Linked DNA regions of Homo sapiens. The protein of the gene in region 1 purifies or fractionates together with the protein of each later gene. This does not show direct contact. Each region holds a gene or a part of one and is shown on either strand. Other genes may lie near its edges.

What was found. Proteins that work in one complex are often made in the same cells at the same time.
Region 2: the proteins of THUMPD3 (region 1) and TSEN2 purify together in Homo sapiens (co-immunoprecipitation; 2 studies listed by BioGRID and IntAct, with this or other methods). This does not show direct contact.
Region 3: the proteins of THUMPD3 (region 1) and EDRF1 purify together in Homo sapiens (affinity purification with mass spectrometry; 2 studies listed by BioGRID and IntAct, with this or other methods). This does not show direct contact.

The regions. Positions count from the first base shown.
Region 1 is NC_000003.12:9,366,037-9,373,063, forward strand, and holds part of THUMPD3 (tRNA (guanine(6)-N(2))-methyltransferase THUMP3), read left to right. Parts: intron 1-871; coding exon 872-949; intron 950-5,023; coding exon 5,024-5,500; intron 5,501-7,027. UniProt on the Homo sapiens protein: Catalytic subunit of the THUMPD3-TRM112 methyltransferase complex, that specifically mediates the S-adenosyl-L-methionine-dependent N(2)-methylation of guanosine nucleotide at position 6 (m2G6) in tRNAs.
Region 2 is NC_000003.12:12,515,476-12,522,502, forward strand, and holds part of TSEN2 (tRNA-splicing endonuclease subunit Sen2), read left to right. Parts: intron 1-1,135; coding exon 1,136-1,186; intron 1,187-3,583; coding exon 3,584-3,722; intron 3,723-7,027.
Region 3 is NC_000010.11:125,736,705-125,743,731, forward strand, and holds part of EDRF1 (erythroid differentiation-related factor 1), read left to right. Parts: intron 1-1,213; coding exon 1,214-1,285; intron 1,286-1,590; coding exon 1,591-1,741; intron 1,742-3,758; coding exon 3,759-3,947; intron 3,948-4,296; coding exon 4,297-4,497; intron 4,498-5,515; coding exon of another isoform or gene 5,516-5,535; exon of another isoform or gene 5,536-6,210; intron 6,211-6,353; coding exon 6,354-6,572; intron 6,573-7,027. UniProt on the Homo sapiens protein: Transcription factor involved in erythroid differentiation. Involved in transcriptional activation of the globin gene.

The DNA.
Region 1 (7,027 bases):
AGTATTTCTTGAGGATTGAATTCACCAGAAAGAATACTGTTCAACTTAAGAAATTCTCTAAGTATCTCAGTATTTATTTACTTCAGCATATAGCAGATGTTTAACCTTTGGTGATGAAACATAAAAGAGATTTTCCTTTTAATTTGCATCAAAAATTCTTGCTCAGAAGTAATTAGGACTCACTCAAGGTAAAAAGTGAAGGTCAGAAAACTGCAATCTCACTATCATAAAGCTGATATATCTCATTACCACATAAGCAGTGAGAGGGCAAGGATTGTTGTCTATTTTTTTTTCCACCAATATATCCCACGCTCTTAGTGTCTGGCATATAGTAGGTACCCAGAAAATATCTGTGGGATGAATTGGTAAGCAAATGTTTTCCATCCAATATTTTAGCCAATACCCTCAGCAGCTTTGTGAAGATAGGCACTATTATTATCCTCATTAATCATTAGGCTTAGGACACATAAATAATTTCCCCAGGGCCACTCAGCTAGTAATCACAGAACTGGAGCTCAAATCCCCTGCTTTTAACCATTGCAGCATACAGTGTACCCTAGAAAGTCATCGAGGAAATATGATACAGCCCACCTGAGTGGCTTCACCTTTCTCTTCTCCCACAAAAGACGTGTTGCCCACAAAACACTTCATGCTTCTCTCTTTCCATCTGCCCTTTTTCCCTTTCTCTAGGGGAAAGCTGATTAGTAACCAAAGAGATGAGAAACTAGGGAGATGGGACATTTTAAAAATACAAAATATAGTTAGTAGCTGCTTTAAAACTATCATTCCTAATTTTTTAAATACTTAATTGTTGATAGCTTGTGCTGTTCAAAAGCTTTCTCAGAAATGTGTTTCTTTTTTTTTCACCCAGGTTCATTGTCTGAGATCAGTTGATAACTTATTTGTGGTGGTTCAGGAGTTTCAAGATTACCAGTTCAAACAAACAAAGGTGAGCTATCCTAAACATGGTGGCTGATTTTTGGCTGTCTTCCACAAAGAGATTATTTCCATTTTTCATAGTCTGTGAAAGTTTAGCATTACTGTAGTCTTTGTAATAGAGAATACTGGGAGGCTTTTACAGTAAAATCTAGAGTTTTGCTGACAGTCTATCCCAAAAGATGTTTTTTGAAAATTAGTATTGAAAACCATTAAAGTTTATAAGAAAGAAGAAAACACCTTGTTTTACTTGTAAGAGATATAAACCTTAGATTTGCTTTGCTTTTACATATATTTAGTTCCAAAAGAGAATTGCTTCCAGAACATGAACCAAAGAACAAGTGACAGTTTGTGTCTTCTACAAATAACACTTCCTCACCATCCTGCTTTTGCTCTGCTTTCTTCTCTTTCTTCATTTTTTGAAATAAAGCCAAAATAACATCTAAATACTCCTTCAGTTGTTAGGACAACAGCTTTGTCTCCAATATGTATTTAGCATCTGAATCCTAAATATTCAGCTGCTGCCTAAGCTGAAGGTTGAAAATAGATTGCAGCAAGGCTTTAGGTTTTTTCCACACTGCTTTTTGGTTAGGTTTCTAGAGTTAACCGCTTAAAAACATTTTTCTATCAGTTTTACGTATCTTAGAAATAATCTTTTTAAAAACAACTGTGATACGCTACCTAATTGTCTAACTTTTATTTATTGGCAAGCATGTTGATTTCCAAAACGTTATTCAAAAACGAGTCAAAGTTGTATGAACCCTCAGCCTAGAAAACAATAAGACCAGACCTAAAAGAAGTCAGACTTAAGGGCCTGGCGTGGTGGCTCACACCTGTAATCCCAGCACTTTGGGAGGCCGAGGCGGGTGGATCATGAGGTCAGGAGATCGAGACCATCCTGGCTAACACGGTGAAACCCCGTCTCTACTAAAAATATAAAAAATTAGCCGGGCGTAGTGGTGGGCGCCTGTAGTCCCAGCTACTCAGGAGGCTGAGGCAGGAGAATGGCGTGAACCCGGGAGGCGGAGCTGGCAGTGAGCAGAGATCACACCACTGCACTCCAGCCTGGGCGACAGAGCGAGACTCCATCTCAAAAAAAAAAGTCAGACTGAAAATAGATAAAAATTGTATTAAGTAAAAATCTAACTTTTAGAAAAGCTTAAAGCAATTCTAATGAGTTCTCTTAAGTATTCAGATGATAATCATGAATTTATTAGTCCCCACCCCCCTCTTTTAAAAAATATTGAGATGGGGTCTCACTATGTTGCCCAGGCTGGTCTCAAACTTCTGGGCTCAAGTGATCCTCCCACTTAAGCCTCCCAAAGTGCTGGGATTACAGGTGTAAGCCATTGCACCTGGCCCCCATTCCCCACCTCCACCCGCGCATATTTTTTTTTTTTTTTTTTTTGAGACAGAGTCTTGCTCTGTTGCCTAGGCTGGAGTGCAGTGGCACAATCTCAGCCTACTGCAACCTCTGCCACCTGGGTTCAAGCGATTCTCCTGCCTCAGCCTCCCGAGTAGCTGGGACTATAGGCATATGCCACCATGCCCGGCTAATTTTTGTATTTTTAGTAGAGACGGGGTTTCAGCATCTTGGCCAGGCTGGTCTTGAACTCCTGACCTCGTGATCCACCTGTCTTGGCCTCTCAAAGTGCTGGGGTTACAGGCGTAAGCCACCGCGCCTGGCCTCCATCTGCCTTTTTAAAAGTATGAACAAATCTGTGATTTATATGGGTTTTTAAAGACTAGTTAATACATGTATTTGGAGCAAACTTGTAAAGACTGAATGGATATAGAGTGAAAAGTAAGTCTTTGTTCCTATATCCTCATGCTATGCAGCTCCCTCCCTGGAGGCAACAACTGTTAGCAATTTCTTGGGTATTATTCTGGAGATATTTTACGAATAAATGTATTTTATTTACACAAATGAAAGCATAGCATACATACTTTTCTGCGCTATGCTTTTTTTTCATATACAAGTTGAGTATCCCTTATCTGAAATACTCGGGACCAGAAATGTTTTGGATTTTTGTTTGTTTGTTTTTTGAAATATTCTGGGTTGGGCATGGTGGCTCACACCTGTAATCCCAGCACTTTGGGAAGCCAAAGCAGGTGAATCATGAGGTCAGGAGTTTGAGAGCAGCATGGCCAAGGTGGTGAAACACCATCTCTACTAAAAATACAAAAATTAGCCGGGTGCGGTGGCGGGCTTCTGTAATTCCAGCTACTCGGGAGGCTGAGGCAGGAGAATCACTTGAACCCGGGAGGCAGAAGTTGCAGTGAGCCGAGATCACGCCACTGCACTCTAGTCTGGGCAACAGAGCAAGACTCCGTCTCAAAAAAAAAAAAAAAAAAAAAAAAGAAAGAAATACTCTGAGGGTGGAACCTATGTATAAATAAATCCAAGATTCATTTGTTTCATATATACGTTATACGTATAGCTTGACGGTAATTTTATATGATTTTTAAAATAATTTATACATGAAACAAAGTTTGTGTACACTGAACCATCAGAAAGCAAAGGTGTCACTATCTCAGCTACCTGTGTGGCATCATGTTGGCACTTCAAAAAAATTTTAGGTTTTGGATTTTGGACTTTGAGATTAGGAATGTTCAACCTATATGTTGGAGATCCTGGCAGTATCATTGCTGGAATTGGCTGCGTATACTCCATTGTTTGGCTGTATAATAATTTAACCAGTCCCATTTTAGGGCATGAGGGTTTTTCACATTCTTTTGCTATTACAGTGGTGCAACAAATACACTATGTAAATTCTTGTACATATTCAAACTGAGTGTCATCTTTGTGTTTATCCCATTGATACTTATTGATAATGACAACTGTTTAGTCTTAGTTTTGTCATGCTCATACTTTTTGTTTTTTCTTAATTTGAAAAATCTTTACATTATGTCTTTACTTTTTTCATATGCCTGTGTTTTCTAATAGTTTGGAAGGTTTATGTGTGTGTGTTCTAGCTGTTACCTTTATAACTACAATTTGATATTATCTACCTTATCTACCATATATACACGGTATTTTTTGAATCCCTGCTAAAAGCAATGATGAAATTGGCATATTTATACTTTTTTCCTTTATTTTTCAGTTATTTTTCTTAGTGTTCACCCTTAAACTTTTAAATATACTTACATTTTATTTATCAGCTTTAACTTCTATCCTTTGACCTCTGGGTGTAAGAGATGAGGGTATCAGTATGCCCATTTACATGCCAGTTTGTAACATTTACCTTCTGCTTTATAATCACAATCCCTACACTTGTTTTCATTTTAGTGATATAATTAAATAGATTATAGGCACATTATTTGTCCTTTTGTTATAATTTGTATCTGTTGAATGGCATGAGTTCAGAAATGTTTGTCTTTCACCTTTATATTTGGCTGATAGTTTGGGTATAAAATTTGGAGTTAGGCTTTCTTTCCTTAAGAATATTGTAGTCAGTGTTCATTCTCTTTTGTAAAAGATTTATTTTTTTAGACAAGATCTTGCTCTGTTGTCTAAGCTGGAGTGCATTGGCGTGATCATAGCTCATTGGAGCCTTGACCTCCCAGGCTCAAGCAGTCCTCCCATCTCAGCTTCCTGAGTAGCTGGGACTACAGGCACGTGCCACCATGCCCAGTTAATTTTTGTATTTTTTTGTGGAGACAGAGTTTTGCCATGTTGCCCAGTCTGGTCTCAAACTCCTAAGTTCAAGTGATCCACTTGCTTCAGCTTCCTAAAGTGCTGGGATTACAGGCATGAGCCACCATATCCAGCCCAGACTTTTTTTCTTGTCATTATTTCCCAAACAATACAGTATAACAACTATTTCCATAGCATTTACATTGTATCAGGTATCATAGGTAAGATAGAGATGATTTAAGTTACTCTTGAGAGGATGTGTGTAGGTCATATGTAGACACTATACCATTTTATATGAGGGACTTTTGAGCATCTTTGGGTTTTGGTGTCTTTGGCGGTCCTGGAACCAGTGTCCCCCACGGATACCAACTGTCCATAAGCAAAGTAGAGGTTTATTTGTTTGATTATAGTGGTGAGAAATGAATGAATTTCTTTCTCTGTCCTTTACAGGAAGAAGTTCTAAAGGATTTTGAAGACTTGGCTGGAAAACTCCCATGGTCAAACCCCTTAAAAGTGTGGAAAATTAATGCCAGTTTTAAAAAGAAAAAAGCAAAGCGCAAAAAGATAAATCAGAATTCAAGTAAAGAGAAGATTAATAATGGACAAGAAGTCAAAATCGATCAGAGAAATGTTAAAAAAGAGTTCACTAGCCATGCTTTAGATTCTCATATCTTAGATTATTATGAAAATCCAGCCATCAAAGAGGATGTATCAACATTAATAGGTGATGATTTGGCATCTTGCAAAGATGAGACTGATGAAAGCTCAAAAGAAGAAACTGAGCCTCAAGTGCTGAAGTTTAGAGTCACATGCAACAGGGCAGGAGAGAAACATTGCTTTACCTCAAATGAGGCTGCAAGAGATTTTGGGGGTGCTGTTCAAGATTATTTTAAGTGGAAGGCCGACATGACCAACTTTGATGTGGAGGTAGGTATAGGCTCTGACTGTGGTGATTGAAGAATGCTGTCACAGATTTGTAGAATTTCCAGACTAACCCAATGTTATGCACAATTAAACTGAGGAAATAGTAGGGTGTGGTTAAGAAGAGCATAGGCTATGGAGACAGATTTAGATCCAAATTTTAACTCCACAACTGTATAACTTTGGACTAGATAGTCTCTGAGCCTCTGTTTCAAATGGAGCCAATAATATTATGTACCTTTAAGGTTATCCTGAAGGATAAATGAGGTACATTTAAAATATTTGGTGCAATACCTTGCATACACTAAGTGCTCCATAGATGGAAGCCATCAAGGTTGAGTTGTCTGTTTTCTTTTTCTTTTTCGAGACAGAGTCTTGCTCTGTCACCCAGGCTAGAGTGCAGTGGTACGATCTCAGCTCACTGCAGCCTCCACCTTCCTGGTTCAAGTGATTCTTGTGCTCAGCCTCCCAAGTAGCTGGGGCTACAGGCACATGCCACCACACCTGGCTAATTTTTGTATTTTTTAATAGACATGGGGTTTCACCCTGTTGGCCAGGCTGGTCTCAAACTCCTGTAGTGATCTGCCTGTCTTGGCCTCCCAAAGTGCTGGGATTATAGCTGCACCTGGCCTGATTTCTAATAGACTACTCTTTTACTATATTATATGGACTTTCATATTATAAAATTCAACCAGAATTAAAATAGTTATTTTGTTTTTGTGTGTCTTGGTTGCAGAGCTTTGCTACTGAAAAAATAAAATAAGGCTGGGCGCAGTGGCTCACGCCTGTAATCCCAGCACTTTGGGAGGGAGGCCGAGGCAGGTGGATCACTTGAGGTCAGGAATTTGAGACCAGCGTGGCCAATATGGTGAAACCCTGTCTCTACTAAAAATACAAAAATTGGCCCGTCATGATGGCACACTCCTGTGGTCCCAGCTACTGGGGAGGCTGAGGCAGGAGAATCACTTGAACCAGGGAGGTGGAGGTTGCAGTGAGCCAAGATCATGCCACTGCACTTCAGCGTGGGTGACAGAGCAAGACTCCATCTCCAAAAAAAAAAAAAGTGCATTTTTTAAACAAACCCTGACCTTCTCAAACCAGGACATCATTGCTAATACTCATCCTAGAGTCAGCTCTCCTCTTTCTTAAATTCTGCTAGATTTCCAAAGCCAGGTACCTCATTTTAGTATATTTACTTTCCTTGGTCTTAATCCTCTTTTATCTGGGTGATTGACATGTGAACCATAGGAACTAAAGTATTTAAGTCTCTGACACCTTAAAACATCTCTAGCAGCTGATATATTTACCAAAGAGTCAATTTCCGTTGCTTTTGGGACACTTGAATCTGGGGCAAGTCACTGATTCTAACTTTTTTGTGCATGTCAAATCAGGAGTCTAATTCCCCATTCCTTTTTTTCCTCATACACTGCCTTGCAAATGAATACGTGGCTCACACCTGTAATTCCAGTACTTTGGGAGGCCTTGGCAGGCAGATCGCTTGAGCCCAAGAATTTGAGACCAGCCTGGGCAAAA
Region 2 (7,027 bases), 3.1 Mb from region 1:
TATTTAAAAAGAAATGTGACCCCATTTTACCACTGGCTACCATTTGGTCACTACCTGCTCTGCACCAATCTCATGGGAATCCCTTCAGTGGTATCTGTAGACCCTAAGCGCCCTGGACAGGCAAAGCCAACAACACATGGCTCTTTGGGTGGTGTCAGTGTTTGGCAGTGTATTACTTTAACAGAAAGCCATTTTCATTTCCATTTAAGTGTGACTATATTCAACTGGAGCCAATTTTCTTTGCCATTCCTACAGCCTCCCCCCACACAGTAAAATATATCATTATGTGAGGTCAGTGCAAACATAGGGTTCTAGAAAATCACTTCACCAAAGATGACTGGGAAACTAGTATTTTGTCAGGTAAGCAAAATCAGCACTGCCCCACACTTTTCACACCTTTTTTTTTTGTTGATATATTTTTCTCAATTTAAATATGGTTATTTAATTTTACAGGGAGAAACTCCAATGAGCAACAGTTTCTATTGCTATAGCTGTTAACATCATTCTTCAGTTATATAGGTTTTTTAGGGAATAAATATGGAAACATTCATAAAAATCTTTTATTTTTATTGATTTAAGCCAGTTTGTAACATTTGTATTTTCTTAGATTTTTAAAAAAATCTAAGACATTTGAATGAACCATTTATATTAAAAATATGTGACTTTTGGCCAGGTGTGGTGGCTCACACCTGTAATCCCAGCACTTTGGGAGGCCGAGGCAGGTGGATCATGAGGTCAGGAGATCGAGACCATCCTGGCTAACACTGTGAAACCCGTCTCTACTGAAAAAAATACAAAAAATTAGCCGGGCGTGGCGGCGGGCGCCTGTAGTCCCAGCTACTCGGGAGGCTGAGGCAGGAGAATGGTGTGAACCCAGGAGGCGGAGCTTGCAGTGAGCGGAGATGTGCCACCGCACTCCAGCCTGGACGACAGAGTGAGACTCCGTTTCAAAAACAAACAAACAAAATATATGTGTGTGTGTGTGTGTGTGTGTGTGTGTGTGTGTGTGTGTGACCTTTTTGATGATGACTTAAGAGCATTTGTATTTGAGGTGAAAAGAGATCAGTCTGTAAAATGGTTTCACAAGAATGTGAAACTATTTGTAATGAGCATTTTCTGCTTGCTGTATTTTCAGGCCTTTTTCTTGGTCTATGCTCTGGGATGTTTAAGTATTTACTATGAGAAGGTAAGATGCTTTGTTTACATACAACCCACTTAAAATTTCCCTGTTGTTAAAAGCAGGTTGTACTAATTTCTATATTGCATTAATACAAATGTTTCTACTCTTACTGAATAAAATAGGAATTGAATTTTTCTCTAAAGTTTTGGATTTGGGTCCTGAGGTGGGACTGTTCGAGCAAAAGGCATCTTTGACCCTTTTAGATTGCATTTCATTCCTCAAAACTAGGAGAAGTACAGTATCTTGTACTGGATAATGATTAGGAAATCTGTGTCAGAACAGTATTAAAAATTAACAAAAATAAAAGTTACCCGTATTTGGCACCTACTATGGTAAAAGCTATATTTTAGGTACTTTACACGCAATATTTCCAGTCCTTATCTCCACCTGGTTAGAATTTGCAGATAAGGGGCCGGGCCCGGTGGCTCACGCCTGTAATCCCAGCACACTGGGGGGCCGAGGCGGGCAGATCACAAGGTCAGGAGATCGAGACCATCCTGGCTATCCTGGCTAACATGGTGAAACCCTGTCTCTACTAAAAAAATACAAAAAATTAGCCGGGCGTGTTGGCATGCGCCTGTAGTTCCAGCTAATCAAGAGGCTGAGGCAGGAGAATGGCATGAACCTGGGAGGTGGAGGTTGCAATGAGCCGAGATAGCGCCACTGCTCTCCAGCCTGGGCGACAGACCGAGACTCTGTCTCAAAAAAAAAAAAAAGAATTTGCAGATAAGGTAACTGAGGCTCAGAGAAAATAAATAATGTACCCAAAGTCACACAGCTAGTCTGGTTAGAATAAATATTCGAACCTATGTCCAAGTAACTCCAAAGCCCATGACTTTGTGCTGTTGTTGCCTGCTGCCTTTGGAAGGGAGATAATTGTAAAATAATTCAAATAAAATTTAAAAGAGAAAAGTAAACAGAACAGTAAATGGAGCAGATAAGGTATATTCTGTTTGGCTCTTGGGAGCACATAATTTAATCAGTCATCAAATTCTGATTGCATAAATACCGTTCATGGGTATTCCAGCCGTTTGGAAGCAATGTCTGCCTGACAAATGGCTCATTTTCCCAAATGGTGGCAATTCTTAGCCCCACCCTGCTTCCTCTCGCGGGCCTTAGCTGAAATGTGTCAGAACGTTACAGCTGTGACATAAAAGCCTCAACATCTGAACAACACTGGGCTGTGTTGGAAATTCAGCCTTCTCTATAAGGCTGTTGCTTGTTACTCACATTGGGGTCACAAGGTCACACAGGTATGGAATTTTTGCATTAGGAACAACTGCAAAAAAAAAACAACTCTAGTCTATTGTATTATAATCTTAGGCTGGGACAAACTGAGCCAGTCTCACTGAGTGACTGAGCCTTAAATCAGCTGAAGACTTGATTGTTTCAGTAACTACTGAAATAAAGCAAAAATTTTCCAAACTTACCTAGTTATTTTGTTGTCATTGTATTTTTGGTAATGATACATCAGAATATTCTCTAGACCAAACTATTCTCATTCTCTTTGACTCCCACATTAAAAACAAAATTGTCTTTTAAGCAGTTAATTATTAGTTTGTGCCATCAGATAACAAATTCTCTAGTTTCAAACACTAAATGGAGGTTTGTTTGTTTGTTTTTAAGTTTTACTATAAAAGTGTTTTTTGTTCTTCTGAACATGAGCTGACATAGAGTAGCCACTCACTAAGGGTCTGTGAAATGTTGTCACGAACTGTGCTCCAGCCTTGGTGGGCTTGTTACAGTGAGCCCCCTGCATGCACTGCTTCCTCTGCCTGGAATGTCCTTCCCAGCCCACCACCACCCCCTCCAGTCCTTTTCCCTCACTACTTGTCATGCTCAAATGCTGCCTTTTCTAAGTCCTCTGGAGCAGTGCTGTGCAATAGAAGGACAGTGAGAGCCTCAGATGGGAGCCATGTGTATAATTTCAGATTTTCTGGTAACCACATTAAAAACATTTTTTAAAAAGCAGGTGGTATTTTAATACAGTATTACACAGTTTATTTAACCCAACTTATTCAAAGATATTGAAATAGTTTATATTCTCTCTTTTTTTTTTTTTTCATACTGAGTAGGAAGTCAGTGTATATTTTACACTTAGAGCCACTCTCAGTTCAGACTAGCTATGTATGGCTGGCAGCTGCCCCACTGGACAGGGCAGGACCAGACCTTCTTGCTAAATTGCTCTGCTGGGAGTGAACCGAGATCACGCCACTGCACTCCGGCCTGGGTGACAGAGCGAGACTCTGTCTCAAAAATAAAATAAATAAATTGCTCTGCTGGGGGAACTGCATTTTCTTCACTGCTTCAGCTCCACACTTAGTATAGATGTTGGTGCCCTGGCTGAACGGAGAGTGAATGCATACATAGTAATGCTTTTTGTTTTTTTGTAAATAACTTTAGGAGCCTTTAACGATAGTGAAGCTCTGGAAAGCTTTCACTGTAGTTCAGCCCACGTTCAGAACCACCTACATGGCCTACCATTACTTTCGAAGCAAGGGCTGGGTGCCCAAAGTGGGACTCAAGTACGGGACAGATTTACGTAAGTAATTCTTGGCGTGGTGTGTGTGAGAATAGAGTTTATATCAGATTCACCCTAGAATATCAAATTGATCTTGTGTGCTGTTGATGATGTTTTCTAAGAAGGTATCCTTTGGGTTTAGATAAGATTATTGGATATTTGGATTGGGTTAAGGGTAAGTGCAAAAAGAGAAAAGGCAGTCTAGGGAGAAGGCCTAGGAGTAGAAGCTTGCAACGCCAGTTCAGGCTTTCCCTCTTGTTTGCTCTATGATCTTAGAAAAGCGTTCTGGCTGAGCGCCGTGGCTTACGCATGTAATCCCAGCACTTTGGGAGGCCAAGGTGGGTGGATCACGAGGTCAGGAGATCGAGACCATCCTGACTAACAAAGTGAAACCCCTTCTCTACTAAAAAATATAAAAAATTAGCTGGGCGTGGTAGCGGGTGTCTGTAGTCCCAGCTACTCGGGAGGCTGAGGCAGGAGAATGGCGTGAACCCGGGAGGCAGAACTTGCAGTGAGCCGAGATCGCGCCATTGCACCCCACCTGGACGACAGGGCAAGACTCCGTCTCAAAAGGAAAAAAAAAGAAAAAGCATTCTATAGCACCCACCCCCACGTCTCTAGCCATGAGATCGGGTAATTTGGGAGAGTCCCTTATCCCCGGGCCTCAGTGGCCTCATCTGCCAAGTGAGAACAATCATATAATTGTAATAATCGCCACAGCCATCATTGAGCACTTGCCATGTGCCAAGCATTTTACTAAGTATTTTACATTCATCATCTTGTTTAATCCTTACAGTAGTCCTATGCAGTGGAGACGCTTACTGTCTTTTTTTTTTTTTGAGACGGAGTCTCGCCCTGTTGCCCAGGCTGGAGTGCCAGTGGCACAATCTTGGCTCACTGCAACCTCCACCCCATGGGTTCACGCCGTTCTCCTGCCTCAGCCTCCCGAGTAGCTGGGAATACAGGCGCCCGCCATCACACCCGGCTAATTTTTTGTATTGTTAGTACAGACAAGGTTTCCCCGTGCCAGCCAGGATGGTCTCGATCTCCTGAGCTCGTCATCTGCCCACTTCAGCTTCCCAAAGTGCTGGGATTATAGGTGTGAGCCACCATGCCGGCCGTATTGTCTTCATTTTCTGATAGGGAGACTACAGTTTAGAAAAAGTAGGTCATTGCCCATAATAGTTTCCAGGGCCAGTAACTTGCAAAGCTGCACTTTGAATTCTGAAGCCCACGCTTTTAGAAATGTCTGACAGTACTGCCTCCCTTGATCTTTTCTTTTTAATTAAATCAATATTTTACTTATTTAATTTTTTTAACTTTAAATTTAGGGCCAGGTGCGGTGGCTCACGCCTGTAATCCCAGCACTTTGGGAGGCCGAGGCGGGCAGATCGCTTGAGGTCAGGAGTTTGAGACCAGCCTGACCAACATGGTGAAACCCCGTTTCTACTAAAAATACAAAAATTAGCTGGGCGTGGTAGCAGGCACTTGTAATCCCAGCTATTTGGGAGGCTGAGGCAGGAAAATTGCTTGATCCCGGGAGGCAGAGGTTGTAGTGAGCTGAGATCACGCCACTACACTCCAGCCTGGGTGACAGAGACTCCACCTCAAAAAAAAAAAATTTTTAGGTTCAAGGGTACATGTGCAGGTTTGTTACATGGGTAAATTCATGTGACAGGGGTTTGTTGTACAGATTATTTGATCACCCAGGTACTAGGCCTAGTACCCAGTAGTTATCTTTTCTGCTCCTCTCCCTCCTCCCTCTCTTCACCCTCAGGTAGACCCCAGCGTCTGTTGTTCCCTTCTTTGTGTTCATAAGTTCTCTTCATTTAATTCCCACTTACAAGTAAGAATATGTGGTATTTGGTTGTCTGTTCCTGTGTTAGTTTGCTAAGGATAACAGCCTCCAGCTCCATCCATGTTCTCACAAAAGACACGATCTTGTCCATTTTTGTGGCTGCCTAGTATTCCACTGCATCCCCCAATCTTAAAGTGAGGGTCTGGAGTAGGTGAGTTCCTCATTCAGCAGATAATGACTAAAGGTCTGCTGTGGGCCAGGTACTGTTTGAGGCATCAAGAATACAGAAGTGAACAGGACAAACAGAGCTGCCTTCATGGAGTTTACATTCTAGGGGGATGGGGGAGACACACAAGCAAATAACTACATGACGTAGTTTCTGCAACAGATAAGCACTGTAAGAAGAAGCAGAGTCAAGGCTACCCAAGGTCAACTGTAGTCAAAAAGATTCAGATATCTGCTGGGCACAGTGGCTCACGCCTGGATTCTCAGCACTTTGGGAGGCCGAGGCAGGTGGGTCACCTGAGGTCAGGAGTTTGAGACCAGCCTTGCCAACGTGGTGAAACCCTGTGTCTAGCACAAATACAGAAATTAGCTGGGTGTGGTGGTGCATGCCTGTAATCTGAGCTACTTGGGAGGCTAAGGCACGAGAATCTCTTGAACTTGGGAGGCAGAGGTTGCAGTGAGCCAAGATCACACCACTGCACTCCAGCCTGCACAAGAGAGTAAGAGTCTCTTAAAAAAAAATAAAAATAGGCTGGGCGCGGTGGCTCACGCCTGTAATCCCAACACTTTGGGAGGCTGAGGCGGGCTGATCATGAGGTCAGGAGATCGAGACCATCCTGGCTAACACGGTGAAACCCCATCTCTACTAAAAATACAAAAAATTAGCCAGACGTGGTGGCAGGTGCCTGTAGTCCCAGCTACTCAGGAGGCTGAGGCAGGAGAATGGCGTGAACCCAGGAGGCGGAGCTTGCAGTGAGCCGATTGCGCTACTGCACTCCAGCCTAGGCAACAGAGTGAGACTGTCTCAAAAAATAATAATAAAAAATAAAAATAAAAAATAAAAATTAAGATATTTTGAGAGATCAGATTCTCATAACTTTCATTATAGTGTATTGTTATAATTGTTCATTTTATTAATGTTCTTAATCTCATACTGTGGTTCTTTTGTCTGCAACTTTATTTTAATGATCAAGTTATACTTTGGATGATGCATAGGGGAAGCTTCCTTAATTTAAAGATATTCTGCCTTATAAGGATGGTTGGACAGATGGATAGATGGATGGACAGATAAATAGAATTTTGAAAACAAAAAAGATAAACTACTCAGTTTACAACTCCCCTGGAGGCCTTTGCCCTCACTGGGACATATCATCTAGAAACAGATGTACAATTAATACATTAATTGTACAATTAATGTGGGACCAGGTCTCTGACCCACACACAGAGTCAGACTGGGCCAGCATCAGTGTTAAAAGTGTCTTCACATTCTCTGCATAAGCAAAGGTTCTTGAGCAGTGCTAGT
Region 3 (7,027 bases), on another chromosome or scaffold:
TTTTTCTCTCAAAAGCATCAAGATTATGCTCATTGGAGGGTCTTTGTATTTGCTGTTGCTTCTGCTTGGAATGTACCTACCCTAGGTCTGTTCATGGCTGCCTTTTTTAAGGCTTAAGTCTTGACTGAAATGTTGCCTCTTCAGGGAGATGTTCCCTGACCACTCTGGCCAAAGCATGCTCTACTTTTTTGTCCTTCAAGGAGCCTATCTGTTCCTGAAGTTCTTAATGTTTGTCTTGCTTCACTAGAACGTAAGCTCCCTGCAGGTACAGACCCTCTATCTCCCATGTCTAGAACACATTATGGGTGCTCAGTAAATATTTGACTAAATGACTGCAGGAAAAAGTCATTAACTGTCCATCTAAATTTTAGTTCACTTTCAGCTTGAACTTCCACAGTGGAGTGAAAAAATGTTCTGGTTATAATCATTGATTGCAAAAGTTACATGTATCTGGAAAACTGCATTGTAACACTAGGCCATGGACTTACGGGGCAATTAGGTAATAATTAAAGATGTAATGAGTTAGTGTCACTATTTTTCACAGATAGCACTTTCTGTTCCGTATCTGAAGCACTCAAAAAATGCAGTCTTAGTATTCATATAAACATGTCTTTAGTTAGCCTTTCCTTATCCTCATTGAATGACTTTGTGGTATGGACAGTCAGCATGAGCTCCAGGGTCCCAGCTCCCCACTCACTCACCGTGTCCTCAGACAAATTGCTAAACTGTCTGTGCATGCTTCTCTTCTGTGCAATGAGAACAGTAATTCCAACCCCACGGGATTCAGCGAAATGAAATGCTTCACAGAAGCCCCTACACATAATATCCTTCATAGTTGGAGGTTGCTAGCTGCTTTTGCTCCTTAATTAAGCAAATAAATTAAACAACGAGAATATTGGTGATACTTGTTATTTCTAAATTGACGCTAATTGTTAATTGTGTTTTGTCCAGTATCGGTGCTAATTATGAGTGGAGCTGACCTATTAGATGATGTCTATATTTGTCTAAAACATTACTACTCTAGTTCTTGCTTTTTTGTCATAATAGAATTGTATTTAAAATTGTAAGTACTTAAAGCAACATATATGTTGTAGGATCTTTTTAAGCAAGATTTTTGTTGATAATGCTTACAGTAATTTAATCTTCAACAAAAACAATATGTTGACCTTAATACATTGGTAGTGTATTAATAATTTTATGTTTGTTCCTCAAGCCCAGTTGTGCATTTCCAGTTTGCCATGACACAGAAGAGCGCTGTAGACTTGTGCTTAGCTATGTTCTAGAGGTAAGTTTAAGTTTAGTCTTCACTTTTTTCGTAAAGTTTGTACTTGATTATGCAAATTACACTTGTTTGTTGGTATCTAAATGTTATTCTGAATTGTGTTCTGCTGCGATTTTTTTTTCCTTAAGCATAAAGTGAAAATCAGATTTGTTTTTCCCAAATCTTTCAGATCAAACATAGTTTTTGAAAGTCTGTTTGTGAGATGGAAATTTTCCTAAACGTATTCAGTAGTCCAGATACTGTCTTATATTTAGTTTTCAGTTGACCTGAAGTTAGATAGATAGTGAATGCTTTTCCTTTTTTTGCAGGGTTTAAAATCTGTCGATAGCAGCATCAAAAAAGAAAGCGACCTTCCAGCAGCTGACCCCAGCACTCCAATCCCGTTAAAATATGAAGATGAATCCTCAAGAGGGGGTCCCGAGGGGCTAGAGAAGCAGATGGCCTTGTTTTTGGACAAAAGTAAGTTGAATTGATGTGCAAATAAGGCCTTCAATAGAATAATACACTGGTTCTTTATCAACAGCAGACTTATGTCAATTAAGGCATTAATTGAAAGGCATTGAGAAAAAGATATCCTGTGAACTGGAATTAGGGGTAGTATTCTTTCATTTGAAATATAAAAAGGATAATTTTGATGTTTCATGGACATTTCTAATAAGAGCATAAGGAGCCTGCATCTTCCTGTTACCCACAGTGGGGAACTAATGCTTCAGCCTGGTGGAGTTCTCGCTGGATCGTGTAGGAGCCACAGACTTAGCCAGACTGCCTAACTTCATATCTTGGCTTTGCGAGGGCAAGTTGCTCCACTTCTTTGAGTCACTTTTTATCTCTTTCAAAATGGAGACGATAATAATGGTTTCTTTAAAGGGTTGTTAAATGATTAAATGATTAATATATGTAAAGTGCTCAGAACAGTGTACATAATAAGCACTATAGAAGTGTAGGCTGTTGTTACTGCACAGTACTTGAATAAGCTACAAATGTCACTTTTAAATTATCTAGTTCTTCAGGAATATAACATCATGAAGAATATATGGACTTCGAAGCAGAAGTTGTGAATTTCTTATTTTAACCTAAGTTGTATTTCTTTTTCCAACCTTATTTCTTTCCCCCTTTTAAATCAGTTTCAATTGTTTAAAAAAAAAAAAAGTGTAGAAAGCCTGTATGTTTGAAGTACATCTGAATCATAGTGGAAGCGCTTTCTGGACCCTTCTTCTTTTCCTGAACAAACATGGTGGAGGTAGGAGAGGAATAGATTTATTTCCCCAGCATTTATATAGTGCTGCTGGTATGCCAGGCTTCGGCCTACAGGCAGTAAGGAGATCACACCAGGACTTTTGCCATTCTTTTTTTCTGAAATGCCTTTTCTGTCTCCTTCTCCATCTCCCCTGTTGAAAATCCTGCTCAAGCTCAGAATCTCCATGTTTCCCTCTGTTCTCCATCAGAATTACTTGATTCTCTTACCACTTTGTCCTGTGAGCCTGCCTTATGTCAGAGTTCCAGCATTAAATGGTTTTACACACACATGCACACACACGGTTGTGAACAAGAACTTCATCTTAATTTTAGTTTCTCACAATGCCTCTTACTCACAGATGATGCTTATATCAGCAGAGGAAAAAAATCCATACACACATTAAACCATAATGAAGACTAAGTACCTTTCATTGCCTTGAAAGACTTGTGTTCTAGCTGATTAAAAAATGAGAAACCTTCAGGCTGGGGGAAGGGGTGGGTGTTTTTGTTATTTGCAGAGCAAAATTTTCCACAGTATTTTGTTCTTTGTCTGTTAATTACACTTAACATATTTTGTTGTGGTTTATGTTATCAAGGATAGAGGCCATATAACTTCATGTCACAGTTTCCAGTGCCTGGCACAGTACTTGGCAGAAAAATGATCATTTGTTGAGTAAAGAAGGTAGCGATGGGCTGGACTTTAAATAAAGAGTATTCCTTGTAGAGGAAACAGTAAACTAAGATGGGAGATAGGAAAAACAGGCATGTTTATAGGTGACAAGCAGTAACTTAACATTGGCTGATGGGTAGTAGGATGGACAAGTAGGAAGTGAGACTGAGAAACATGCAACTAGCTAAGTGGGGAGAAGCCGTTTTCATGTTTGAGGACAGGCTTTCACGCTGATCTAAGCTGTGCTTTAGGAAGGTAAACTTTGACAGGTTGACACATAGACTGGAAAAAGGAGACAGGTGTCACTCATGAGGTTAGCTATGTCAGTGACACTGGAAGAGAATGACAGAGTTGCCGATGTCAGGGAAGCAGAAGGCCTTAGAACTCCCAAGTGAGAGTCTTTTAACACGGCCATTTCACTCCAGTGTATTTAAGCAGTAAAGCATAGTATTTACCAGTCTTGTCACCTAAGTCTAGAGTGTTTCCATCAAGAAACAGAAAATATTTTTTGTGCATGAGACTTACAGTCAAATGAAATGTGCTGTCTTTTTTTTTCTCTCCATGTCACAGTGGGCTCCCTTCAGAAGGGCAATTATTCCAGTCAATCTGGAATGATCCCTGGCTCTTGGCAACATAAAATGAAACTTCAGCTGATTCTCAAGTCATCAAAGGCCTATTATGTTTTGTCCGATGCTGCCATGAGTCTTCAGAAATACGGAAGAGCATTACGATACATTAAATTAGCTTTGCAAAGCCATGGTAAGCCACTATAAATGAATATGTTTAATAGGCACTGGGAAGAGAGAACAGAGAAGGCATCTGAATCACAGTGGAAGTTTACTCCTATTTTTCTAGTAAATCTTTATTTTAAAATGACTGTTTCCAATCCTGTGTGTGTTACCTTCTATTTTAGTTTCTGCTCAGTGGTTTAACATCTCTTTGCTTTGAACTACATGAAGCCGTAATATGTATTGTTGGACCTAAAATAAACAGAATAGATACAGTGCTACAAAGCGTTCAGCTGGTAACACAGTTTCTTCATATTTCCTATGATCATTAATTTTTTTCTGCATTTGTGTTTTTTCTTCTTCCCTCCCTTTCTAAACAGATACTTATTGCTGCCTCTGCACCAATATGCTTTCCGAAGTGCTGTTGTTTCTCTCTCAATATTTGACACTTTGTGGTGATATCCAACTAATGCTGGCCCAGAATGCAAATAATAGAGCAGCACACCTTGAAGAGTTTCATTACCAAACAAAAGAAGACCAGGAGATCCTGCATAGCCTTCACAGAGAGTCCAGTTGCCAAGGTGTGCCACAGGCTTGGACCACGTGGTTCACAGTGGGACTGTGCAGTCTAGCTCATGCTTATTTGAGTATTCAGAAAAGGGGTAGAAATATTAGAGTTTTGATATTTGCTCTGTATTTATTTATTTATTTTTTGAGACGGAGTTTCGCTCTTGTTGCCCAAGCTGGAGTGCAATGGTGCAATCTTGGCTCACTGAAACCTCCGCCTCCCGGGTTCAAGCAATTCTCCTGCCTCAGCCTCCCAAGTAGCTGGAATTACAGGCATGCGCCACCATGCCCGGCTAGCCCACCTTGGCCTCCCAAGGTGCTGGGATTACAGGTGTGAGCCACCACGCCTGGCCTGCTGTTTTATTCATTTCCTAATTTTAAGATTAAGCATGATCTTGTGTATTTGTATAAAATGGTTTTTAAGTATTTTATAATTACTGTTTATATAACTAGAACTAAATATAAAGTAAGATATGAAGACAGTTGTGTCAACTTTTTATTTTATTTTATTTATTTATTTTTTTGAGACACAGTCTCGCTCTGCCACACAGGCTGGAGTGCAGTGGGGCAGTCTTGGCTCACTGCAACCTCCACCTCCTGGGTTCAAGTGATCCTCCCATCTCAGTCTCCCAAGTAGCTGGGACTAGTACATGCGCCACCACACCTAGCTAATTTTTGTATTTTTGTTAGAGACAGGGTTTCACCACGTTGCCCCAGACTGGTCTCAAACTCCTCAACTCAAGCGATCCTCCCACCTTGGCCTCCCAAAGTGCTGGGATTACAGGCACGAGCCACTGCACCCAGCCTTGTGTCAGCTTTTTACACTCTTCTTTTCATGAGGTTCTTCTAGGTAACACTTGTAGTCAGCTAACAAAGCCATAGGTTTCCTTTTGAAAGGTATAACAGTTGGTGAAGGAGGTTAATTAACCTTCTGAATGATTCCTTGGGGCTGAAATAAAGTGATCATTGTTTTTAAAGTTAGTTCATAGCCACCTGTCTTGCTTAATATGTCACTCTGTTTGGAATTGTCAGGCTTTAAAACTGGGAAGTAGAATAATCTGATCCGCAGCAGCGATATCCCTCCCTCTTACCTCAGCACAGTGTGTAACCACGCTGCCATTAACACAGTGAATGAAGTAAAAGATGAGTCTTCTGAAGGTGCTTCTGTAATGTCTCATGGGGTTGTTTTATTATGCTCTTAAATTGTTATACTGAATATTACTTGATGTTTGCCTCCCAGAGTTTTAGACAATTCATAGCTAGAGGAGTATACTGGGGGAGAGGGAAAAATGTGTTATTTTGTAATAGTTTTGCCCTTTCTTCCCCTCTCTCCGTCTTTCTCAAATAATCATGTTTTAATGTAGTAGGAAAGTCCTTGGTGTATTTTTACTACTCCCATCATAGCAATTTCAGTTAAATATTCTTTTTACTCTAGTCCCCACTAGATGGCATTTTTAATCTTCGAGGGCTTCTGTAGCAGCCTCTTCAGTGACTTAAAGTTAATATTGGGACATTATTTCAAGAACTATTTCCATTAGTTAAAAATAGCAACTTTACTTTGTATTAGTGGACAACTTTAGGTCCATTCTAATAAACAAGTGTACCTGGGAAAACCTGGGTCACAGAAATTGTTTGATATTCATAGGCAGGAAAATATTTTTATCCAACATTAATATCCCAAGAAATATAATTTTATAAATAAATAGATCTTTATTATGAAACTTAAATATTGTTGTATTGATTGAATCTTGGTATACTTACACTATATTGCATTTTTTATTACTTAGAATTTAGAATCTCAGGTTCATTTGGATACTGAGGAAGAAGGAATCACATGATTCGCATTGATGTATCCCTTTTTTCTTTTCAGGATTTGCATGGGCAACTGATTTGTCTACAGACTTAGAAAGTCAACTCTCTGTTAGTTGTAAATGTTATGAGGCTGCTAATGAAATCTTGCAGTTTAGTGACTTGAAAAGCCAAAATCCAGAACACTATGTACAAGTATTAAAGAGAATGGGTAACATTAGAAATGAAATTGGTGTGTTTTACATGAATCAGGCTGCTGCATTACAGAGTGAGAGACTAGGTGAGTATCTCTTTAGATTCCTCTCTATTGCTTGTTCTCTCAGAAAATTATGCTAATTTTGTATGAGTCAAGCAAAGAACTGTGGCACTTGATTTTATATCATAAAGAGGTGCTCTATTAGAGAACCTCTTATTATTCTTAAGAAATAGAATTAGGAACACATGATTTTCCCTTGGAATGAATTATTTCAATGTTCTTCATTCTTACTTTTGTACTCACTCCATCTGATCAATTCAGAAGCAAATGGGACATCCAGCCATGTGCCAGGCTCTATGTTGGATATGTAACTGGCTAAAATATGGTTCTCTCTTCATGTTGGGAAGCTAGATAGGAACACAAAGCCTCAAAATGCTGTGGATGAGTACCGACGAAGTATAATGGGAGACTGGGGAAATAAGACATTTATGGAGGTTATAAGTTAGAAGGCTTTTGGGAAAGTGTTGTTGAGCAGGGTG